2 linked regions of the Homo sapiens genome follow. The protein of the gene in region 1 interacts with the protein of each later gene in a pairwise test. Each region holds a gene or a part of one and is shown on either strand. Other genes may lie near its edges.

The links.
Region 2: the proteins of DIRAS1 (region 1) and RAP1GDS1 interact in binary tests that used the Homo sapiens proteins (3 or more experiments, as listed by UniProt).

What each region holds. Positions count from the first base shown.
Region 1 is NC_000019.10:2,713,995-2,718,603, reverse strand, and holds the end of DIRAS1 (GTP-binding protein Di-Ras1), read left to right. Parts: exon of another isoform or gene 1-292; coding exon of another isoform or gene 293-325; intron 326-728; coding exon of another isoform or gene 729-797; coding exon 798-1,394; 3' UTR 1,395-4,037; downstream 4,038-4,609. UniProt on the Homo sapiens protein: Displays low GTPase activity and exists predominantly in the GTP-bound form.
Region 2 is NC_000004.12:98,439,148-98,444,425, forward strand, and holds the end of RAP1GDS1 (rap1 GTPase-GDP dissociation stimulator 1), read left to right. Parts: intron 1-2,842; coding exon 2,843-2,970; 3' UTR 2,971-4,711; downstream 4,712-5,278. UniProt on the Homo sapiens protein: Acts as a GEF (guanine nucleotide exchange factor) for the Rho family of small GTP-binding proteins (G proteins) that stimulates the dissociation of GDP to enable subsequent binding of GTP.

The sequences.
Region 1 (4,609 bases):
CGGCGAGCCAAGATTGTGCCATTGCACTCCAGCCTGGGCAGCAAGAGCGAAACTCTGTCTAAAAATAAATAAATAAATAAGAAGAATAAAATAAAATACGAGTTCCCAGGGCCGTTGCCCTGGCCGACCGATTCATCACACCTAGGGCTGCGGCCCTGACATATGCATCTTAAACACCCGACCATGTGCGGCTTCCATGAGGATTGGCCATCTCTGGGTTGGCGGAAGAGCAGGGGACCCATGGTTGTTGGAGACGGGCACCGTTTGAGCCACCAAACAGGCTCAGGGTGGCATGATGGCTCGGCAAGGTCTCAGAGCCAGGCAGGTGTGGAGCGAGAGGTGGAAGCCAGGCCTGCTAGCTTCCAGGGGCCCCTGCCACACTGGGAAGAGAGGGGGAAGCTGGCACAGCCTGGAAGGGACACCCACACCCGGGGAAGGAGTTTCGTGGGCATCCCGGCGTCTCCCACGCCTCTCCTAGCTCAGCGTCCCCCGGGGAAGCTCAGGCCCCAGATTTTGTTAGGGAGAAGTAAGCAAAGGGTGTTGGCTGTGCGCCCGCCTGTGGGACAGAACTGCAAAGTCAGCCACAAGCAAATGGGCCTTTTCAGGAGGCAGGAGGCACGGCAGCCACCTCCTCTGAGAAGCCGCCATGTCCTCCTCCCTCCCCGGGGCGTGGGGCTGTCCCCTCAAGCCTGGGTGGCCTTTGACGTGTGACCCTCCTCTCTGCACAGGCTCGGTCTGGGGTTCTTGCAGCTGGCACCAGCCCTCCCGGCCCCGGCCGCCCACCCGCCGCGGGGAAGATGCCGGAACAGAGTAACGATTACCGCGTGGTGGTGTTCGGGGCGGGCGGCGTGGGCAAGAGCTCGCTGGTGCTGCGCTTCGTGAAGGGCACGTTCCGCGACACCTACATCCCCACCATCGAGGACACCTACCGGCAGGTGATCAGCTGCGACAAGAGCGTGTGCACGCTGCAGATCACAGACACCACCGGCAGCCACCAGTTCCCGGCCATGCAGCGCCTGTCCATCTCCAAGGGCCACGCCTTCATCCTGGTGTTCTCCGTCACCAGCAAGCAGTCGCTGGAGGAGCTGGGGCCCATCTACAAGCTCATCGTGCAGATCAAGGGCAGCGTGGAGGACATCCCCGTGATGCTCGTGGGCAACAAGTGCGATGAGACGCAGCGGGAGGTGGACACGCGCGAGGCGCAGGCGGTGGCCCAGGAGTGGAAGTGCGCTTTCATGGAGACCTCGGCCAAGATGAACTACAACGTCAAGGAGCTCTTCCAGGAGCTGCTGACGCTGGAGACGCGCCGGAACATGAGCCTCAACATCGACGGCAAGCGCTCCGGGAAGCAGAAGAGGACAGACCGCGTCAAGGGCAAATGCACCCTCATGTGAGCCCGGAACGCCCGCCTGCCCGCCGCCCACCCCCACTGACCCCCGCTGCCTCCCCCAACACCGACACCCTCCTCGGCCTCCTCCTCTTCTCTCATCCTTCCTCCGACACCTCGGCTGGGGAAACCGAGGCCACCGCCCCCCCCTCCGCTGCCCCTGCCCACCCCGAGGCAGGGCTGGGGCTTTTCTTCCTCCCCTGCTCTCTCTCCACCCTCCTGTTCTGTCTGTACCCTCCAAAACCAAGAGCCGGAGGTGGCCCCCTTGTCCTGCAGATGGGAAAACAGGATGGGGAGCTGGCAAGAGGAGCTGCTTGTTCCCACCAGGACCAGAGGAGGCTGCGTTTCCCCGTTTCCATCTCTTTCCCTGGGGTGTCCCCAGCCAGACCTGCGCGTCCTGTCCCTCACATTTGATCACTGTGACCTTCTGGGGGAGGGGGGAGTTGAAAATGCACATCGGCCTCAGATATTTTTTTCTTTTTTCTCCTATTTGGTGTTAACATACACCCAAGCCCACCCGGCCCGTCGTGACCTCTGATCTGTGCCCACTCCTCCGGTTCCAGACGCACCTCTCTCCTCTGTCTTCACAGTGGGGTGTGGGGCCCGTGGGATGGGCCTCAGGCCACCAGGCAATAACCACAGGGCCTGCAGCAGTGCCCCTGCCAGCCCCGAATCCCACCCCCGGGACCAGCCACATCCACAGCACAACTGCCCCGCTGGAGAGGCACCATGGGCGTGGAGGGGCTTCCCGGACACCGCCCACCCGGGACCCGCCTCTTCCACCAAGACAGAGACGTTAGCAACGCATGGCGGGTGGGGACCTGGGGTGCTCAGGAGGGGGTACCCGGGGCCCCGGCCAGAGATACATCAATTACACCCCCGTGGGGGGACAGCCGATGGGAGCCAGCACCAGCAGGATCCGAGGGCGCCCCGGACAGAGGTCTGCCCCACCCACTTCCTCCCCACCACCTGTGCCCCAGAGAGCAGGGCCTGCCCGGGAAGGTGGCGTCCTGGAGTCGAGTGTACCTGCAGCCATGAGGTTCTGGGTGTTTTTTGAGAGAGTCTGAGTGACACCACACTCGTGTGACCCCACAGGGTTGTGTCCAACATACACGGAAGTGGCTATGGAATGGTGTATTTGTGCAACCTGGGGTGCGCGGATGGGTGACTTGTATCTAAGTGCATCTGCGTGTATACCTGTGTGTGTCTGTCTGGGATGATATGTTTTTGTGGCAGTCTGTGTGTGTAATAGTGGTGTAGGGTATACAGAGAGGTGGGTAGTTGTAGATACCTGTGTGTGGTTGTCAGCAAGACTGGATATGTGTGAGGTGTCTGTGTGAATCTTTGTGCCTGTATGAGCATGACTATATTTTGGGGAGTGGGTGATATGGTTTATCTGAGAGCATTTATCTGTAAATATGTTTGTCCTGATTGAGGGACACGATCTGTGTTCCACTCTATAGCAACATGACTCTAGCAATGTGACTTTCGGTTCCAAATCTGTATCAGTCAGCTACTGCTGTGTAACAAATGACCACAAATGTAGCAACCAGAAACAACACATGCTTATTATCTCATAGATTCTGTGGGTCAAGAGCCTGGGTGCAGGTTGGCTGGGTCCTCTACTTGGGATCTCAGGAGGCTGCAATCAAAGCATTCGCCAGGCAGAGGTCTCATCTGAAGGCCTGATCGGGGAAGGATTTGCTTCTTAGAAGCTCATGTGGTTGTTGCAGCATTCAGTTCCTTGCTGTTGCAAGACTGAAGGCCTCAGTTCCTCGCTGGCTGTTGGCTGGAAGCTGCCCTTTGTTCTGTACCATGTGGGTCTCTCCACAGCGGGGCTCGGAGCATGGCAGCTAAGTTAGTGAGGGAAGGTGAGATGGAGGTTTTGGTCTTATTGGGTGTGAGGAAGCAACGTGTGTGTGTGCGCACGCCCTTTTGTGCAGTGAGAGAGAGAGAGAGATTGCACACATGTGTCTCTGTAGTCATGTGGCCAGGTGGGACTATGTAGGTAACAGATTGCTCGTGTCTGATTTGGTACAAGCATGTTTGTTTTCCTCTGTGTTCGTGTGAGTGTTTACTCAACAAATGTTTATTGGACACACTCAGAGAGAGGGAGTGTGCACACGTGCGTGTGTGTTGCTATCCAGCACGTGGACCGGGCTCCCAGAAGAGCTGGCATTGTGTCTGAGCAGAGCTGGGTCCCCCCAAAACTTGGGCTGGCCCAGGGCCCACCAGCAGCTGATGTTGCCTCCTCTCCTGTCCTGGCAGTAGCTTCTGGGTTCTGAAGGTGCCGGAGAGAGTGAGGCTGGGCAGGGGTCTGCGGCCCTTTCTCAGGGACACACCCTGATAGCACAATCTCCTTGGGGCCCTGCCCACCTCCAGGCCTCTCCCACCTCAGGCCCTGCCCGACCCTGGGGAGAGAGGGCATCTGCAATAGGAGGGGACCCGAGCCTGTCCTGGCTGCTGGCCCATCCTGCCTGGGCATCCCTGGTGCTGGGGACTGTGCCAGGCCATGCTTGCTGTGACTCCGCCCCTGCCCCCTCTCCCCCCGCATGTGGGTGCCCCCACTCCCCCATCGTGGGGTCTGTGTAGCCTTCGCTCTAGACATAGTCTTCCTGCAATAAAAAAGTGGATCCTGCATTCCCCACCAGCATGGCGCCCTGTCTCTGTGGTGGGCGTGGGGTGTCAGCTCACCGCCTGTAAAGGATCAAGAAGGGTGGGGAGGTGCAGGATGGGGTGAAGGGTGAAGGAGGTGATGGGTGTAGGAAGTGAGGGATGGGATGAAGGGTGGAGGAGGTGATGGGTGTAGGAAGTGAGGGATGGGATGAAGGGTGGAGGAGGTGATGGGTGTAGGAAGTGAGGGATGGGATGAAGGGTGGAGGAGGTGGTGGGTGGAGGAAGTGAGGGATGGGGTGAAGGGTTGAGAAGGTGGTGGGTGTAGGAAGTGAGGGATGGGATGAAGGGTGGAGGAGGTGACGGGTGTAGGAAGTGAGGGATGGGGTGAAGGGTGGAGGAGGTGGTGGGTGTAGGAAGTGAGGGATGGGATGAAGGGTGGAGGAAGTGGTGGGTGTAGGAAGTGAGGGATGGTGTGAAGGGTGGAGGAGGTGATGGGTGTAGGAAGTGAGGGATGGGGTGAAGGGTGGAGGAGGTGGTGGGTGGAGGAAGTGAGGGATGGGATGAAGGGTGGAGGAGGTGATGGGTGTAGGAAGTGAGGGATGGGAT
Region 2 (5,278 bases), on another chromosome or scaffold:
TCATAATGAAAGGGAAATGACATTGTCAAATGACAGAAAATGGGTATAGGATTCTGGGTTCACAGTTCTTTTCTTTCTTTACTTGAAAACTATTGTGCCACTTTTTTCTAGCCTCCCTGGTTTCTGATGAGAAATCCATTGTGTTCTTATGTGTTTTATTCCCCTGTAGGTAAGGTTTCATTTTTGTCTCTCAAGACTTTCTTTGCGTTTAGTATTCAGAAGTTTAACTATGATGTGTCTTGGCATGGATTTCTTTGGGTTTATCCTGTTTGAGTTTGCTCAGCTTCTTGAATTGATAGGTTTATGTCTTTTGCTAAATTTGAGAAGTTTTGACTGTTACTTCTTCAGGTACTTTTCAGCCCCATTCTATCCACTCTTTCCAGACCTTTGTTGACACTAATGTGAGATCTTTAATTATAGTCTTGTAGGTCCCTGAGGTTTTGTTCTTTTTTACCCACAGATTATTTTCTTTCTGTTGTACAGACTGAGTAATTTCTATTGTTTTATCTTGGAAGTTCTCTGATTATTTCCCTTGTCCCCTCTATTCTGATGTTGAACCTGTTTTTATTTCAGTTATATATTTTAGTTAAAAATTTCCATTTGCTTCTTCTTTATATCTTTTATTTCCTTGCAGAGACTTTGAGTCTCTTCCATTTGTTTAAGCATTTTTAGAATTGTGGTAAAACATACAAAACATAAAATTTACTGTTTTAACCATTTTTAAGTATACAGTTTAATGGCATTAAGGACATTCACATTGCTGTGCAATCATCACCAGCATCCATCTCCAGAACCACCTTCATTTTCCCAAACTGAAACTCTGTACTCATTAACCAATAACTCCCCATTTACCCCTCCCCACAGCCTCTGGCAATCACCATTTATTTTGTGTCTCCATCATCTGACAACTCTAGTCACCACATATATGTGGAATAAGAAACTCCTGTCCTTTTTTGTCTAGCTTATTTTACTTAGGTCTTTAAGGCTTATCTGCATTGTAGGCGTGTCAGAATTTCATTTCCTTTTAAAGCTGAATAATTTTCCATCATATGTATATATCACATTTTGTTTATCCATTCATCAATCCATGGACATTTGGGCCATTTCCACCTTTTGGCTTTTGTGAATAATGCTGCTGTGAACATTGGTATGCAAATATCTCTGAGCCTCTGCTTTTAATTATTTTTGATATATACTCAGAAGTGGAATTACTAGATCATATGGTCATTCAATGTTTAATTTTTTTATTAAATACTGTTTTTACTAATTAAATACTGTCATACTCTTTTTCACAGTGGCTGGACCATTGTACATTTCTTCCAGCAGTACACATGGATTATCATTTCTCAACATCCTCACCAATATTTGCTGTGTTTTAGTAATGGCCAAACTAATGAGTGTGAGGTGGCATCTTACTGTGGTTTTTATTTGCGTTTCCCTAATGATTACTGATGGGAATCTTTTTATGTGTTTGTGGGCCATTTGTATATCTTCTTTGGAGAAATGTCTATTCAAGTCTTTGCCCATTTTTAGAATTGAAGGGTGTTGTTGTTGTTGTTGTTGAATTGTAAGAGTTTTGTTTTTTTTGAGACGGAGTTTCGCACTTGTTGCCCAGGCTGCAGTGCAATGGTGCAATCTCGGCTCACCGTAACTTCCACCTCCCAGGTTCAAGCGATTCTCCTGCCTCAGCCTCCTGAGTAGCTGGGATTATAGGCATGCACCACCTGTAGAGATGGGGTTTCTCCATGTTGGTCAGGCTGGTCTCAAACTCCCGACCTCAGGTGATCCACCCACCTTGGCCTCCCAAAGTGCTGGGATAACAGGCGTGAGCCACCACGCCTGGCCCAAGTTGTAGGATTTTGTACCAGTACCCCACTATCTTGATTATTGTAGCTTTGTAGTAAGTTTTGATATCAGTTAGTATGAGAACTCCAGCTTTGTTCATTTTCAAGATTGTTTTGGAGATTTAGGGTCCCTTGAGATTCCATATGAATTTTAGGATGGATTTTTCTATTACTACTAAAAACACTGGTTCATTGGTTTATGTCAGTCATATCAAAATAAACACATCAGTTTCAGTAGTACTGATTACATTAAGCTTATTAGACTTCACTCATCCCATATAACAGTTCTCAGAGTCCTAACAGGAATCCTATATTTTCTTGTAATTGAAGTTAAATAGAGAAAGCAAGTCAGAAAGAAGAGGACAAAAAATCTAAAAGGGAGTCCAGTGTCACAGAAATTTGTTGAAGGATATGAAGTATAAACTTTTCTTTTGCCACAAAATTAATTTGAAACATATCCTAAGCTTTTTGGTAAGTCATTGGACTTCATATTTGAACTGGTGATAGGGTTGTATGTAACCAAACCTTGAGATCATACAGTGAGCTGTGTTTAATTATAACTCATTATTGTAATTAATCTTACATTGTAGAACTTGACGTCTCGTTTTTCTTTTTAAAAATTGGGCAAGTAGCTGTGCAGTGGCTCATGACTGTCATCCCAGCTACTTGGGAGACTGAGCAGGATGAATCCCTTGAGGCTAGGAGTTTGAGGCTGCAGTAAGCTGTGACCATGCCACTGTACTCAAACCTGGGCAGCAGAGCAAGTCCCCATCTTTAAAATTTTTTCCTTTAATTTAAAAAAAAGTAAAGTTTTTATGATTTTTTTAAATTATAATACATTTCTAAGAAAGACATTGCTAGGCTACTGCTATGTCTTTTTCCAGAATTGTTTCTAGTTTTATAAGCTTAGTCTTGTCAAAATAAACATTTTGGTATATGTTTTGGATAGACTTAGAACAACCTAACAGAATCATATCTGTTATTTTTTTGTCTTCCAGAATGTCTACACAAGGAAGTACAGGATTTGGCTTTTCTAGATGTCGTATCCAAACTTCGCAGTCATGAGAACAAAAGTGTTGCCCAGCAGGCCTCTCTCACAGAGCAGAGACTTACTGTGGAAAGCTGAGAACTGCCCGATACACGGCATCATCCCATCTCTAATTTCCCCTCTGTCCTCCATCCAGCGGCTTCTTCCGCTTCATTCTCTACCATACCACTTGTGCATGCATGTGATGTTCTAATACCAATTGAAGAACCGCTGTAGGTACCTCCCTAATAAGATTTCTAAACCTATAGTTAGTGTGATCATGACTTTGTCAAAGGCAAGTCTCCACCCATAACCGTTCTCTTGTATTCCTGTTGCTTGAGCTACATTAAGTAGAATGTGCATGTTGTAGTCCTATGATGATGTAAACTTGGTACTACATAATGACTTGCTCCACACATGCAGTAAACTACATAATGATGTACTGGTAAACTAGAAACAAAGAATGCAGCAGGATCTGTCTAGCTTATTAAAGATGAAACTGAATTGGAAAAATAGCTCCATTTTTTGGTGCTTGGGAAGCACAGTGACCAAAAAAGTTGTATGGCTGCTTATTCATTAGTCTTTCCTACTGATGTCAAATCCATGGTACCTAGAGTTAAATAAAATTCCAATGCTCTTACTCTTTAACTTCTGGTTTCTCCTTTTTCCTTTTTAGACTATTGAAACTGCCACAAACTTGGCAAGACTTTCTGAGGTTTCTGATTCCATATTTAATTGACTATTATCAATAGCCTGATATTGAAAAACATTTGTAGTTTTCAGTGTGAAACTAAGGGGTTGAAGAATCACTATTACAATCCCTATTACAGAGCATTTCGGGTTTTGCTTGTATTTTAGATTCTGATACATACGCTGTTTCACTCAGGAACTACTTCTACCAGTTAATCAGCATTATCCAGCACTTGTCTTTAAAATTCATTTGGCGCTTGTTTGTTTTCAACTGAGGAAATTGAGTATAGTTCATTGAAGAATGGAATTTTTTTTTTTTTTTTTTTTTTTGCTGTTTTTCATCATTCAGCTAGAAAGTGAGAAGTTTTATCTTCCATAGTCCTTTTAAATCTTATGTTAGAACTAGCAGGACGTAGGTGGAAAGATGAAGAAATAAGCTTGTCTAGACTAAAGAAAGGAAAGCAGGTTATAAAAGCCATAGTAGCCAGTCCAGTTCATTCTGCAGATGGCCCCATACCAATCGCTGTTAGAGTTTGCCACCTCCACTTTCCCACTGAGAACTGCAGCAATTTTAAAGGATATGAGAAAGCCAAGACTCAAGAGATGAGAAGACCCCCTTGGCGAAATATAGTGTACTCTTCACTGCCACTGCCACCACCAAATGGGTTTTTAGAGCTTTGAAACACAATCTTTGTAAATTAATCAAAACCTCCCTGTGACCCACCTGCCTTCTCCCCATACCCAAATTTGACCACTACTGGCCTAAAAGGCAAGATGGGCTTCGATATAGAAGGACTGCAAGACAGTAGAAAGGGCTGCCACGGAGGTGACAGTAGCTCCTTCCTCTCCAACATGTGATGCTACACATCTCTGTGGATAATCTAAGTTGGACTTTTGACTCTAAAACAGCTATAATCCAAGAAAGTTAAATTCTAATGGAGGTAAAGAATCTTGACTGATTGTTCCCTTTGATGTCCAAATAAGGGAACTATTGTGAGTACGTATGCTACACTTACTATAAGAATGATACTGTTTGTTGTCTTTCTCCTGGGCTGGATAGTGGACTATATTTTATTACAGGCTTTGAAAGACATCTGTAATGTTGCATATCTGTTCATATTAATAACTTAATAAATAGTATATGAAGCTATAATGGCATCATTTGGTTTGTTTGTATATTTTGTCTCTATTTCCAGCTCCTAGAATAAGGCTTGCTATTGATGTTCAACAAATATTTGTTGACTGAATGAATGAATCCTGCATCCATGAAGTTTCCAGACTGCCTGAACTAATTCCAGAAAGATAGACTGACTGACTGATAGAAAGTTTGAGATTTGATAGTTTGTCTGACTTTAGGGAAAAAATTTTAACAAAAGCATCCTAAAATCGTAAATGTGAGAGAAGTTACCATCTAGGCCAGCTGCCAGCCATCAATTTGCTAATATGCTAGGAACTCCCATCTCCAGCAAAATAAAGTGCAATTCAAAGTACTCATCATTGTACGGAAAGACCAGAAGGCTGTGCCCTTATCACAGGGGCTACCAAATTAGATGGTACACTGATGTGCCATTGCAGTGGATGGGAGAGTCTACAGACTGTACTCTCGCTTATCTCCTGCTACTAAATCTTAGTCCTAGAGGCCACTATTTATTAAGTTAGTTTGCTACCCACTAAGAGTACATTCTAAGGGAGACAACAGGAGGGAAGAACAGCACAA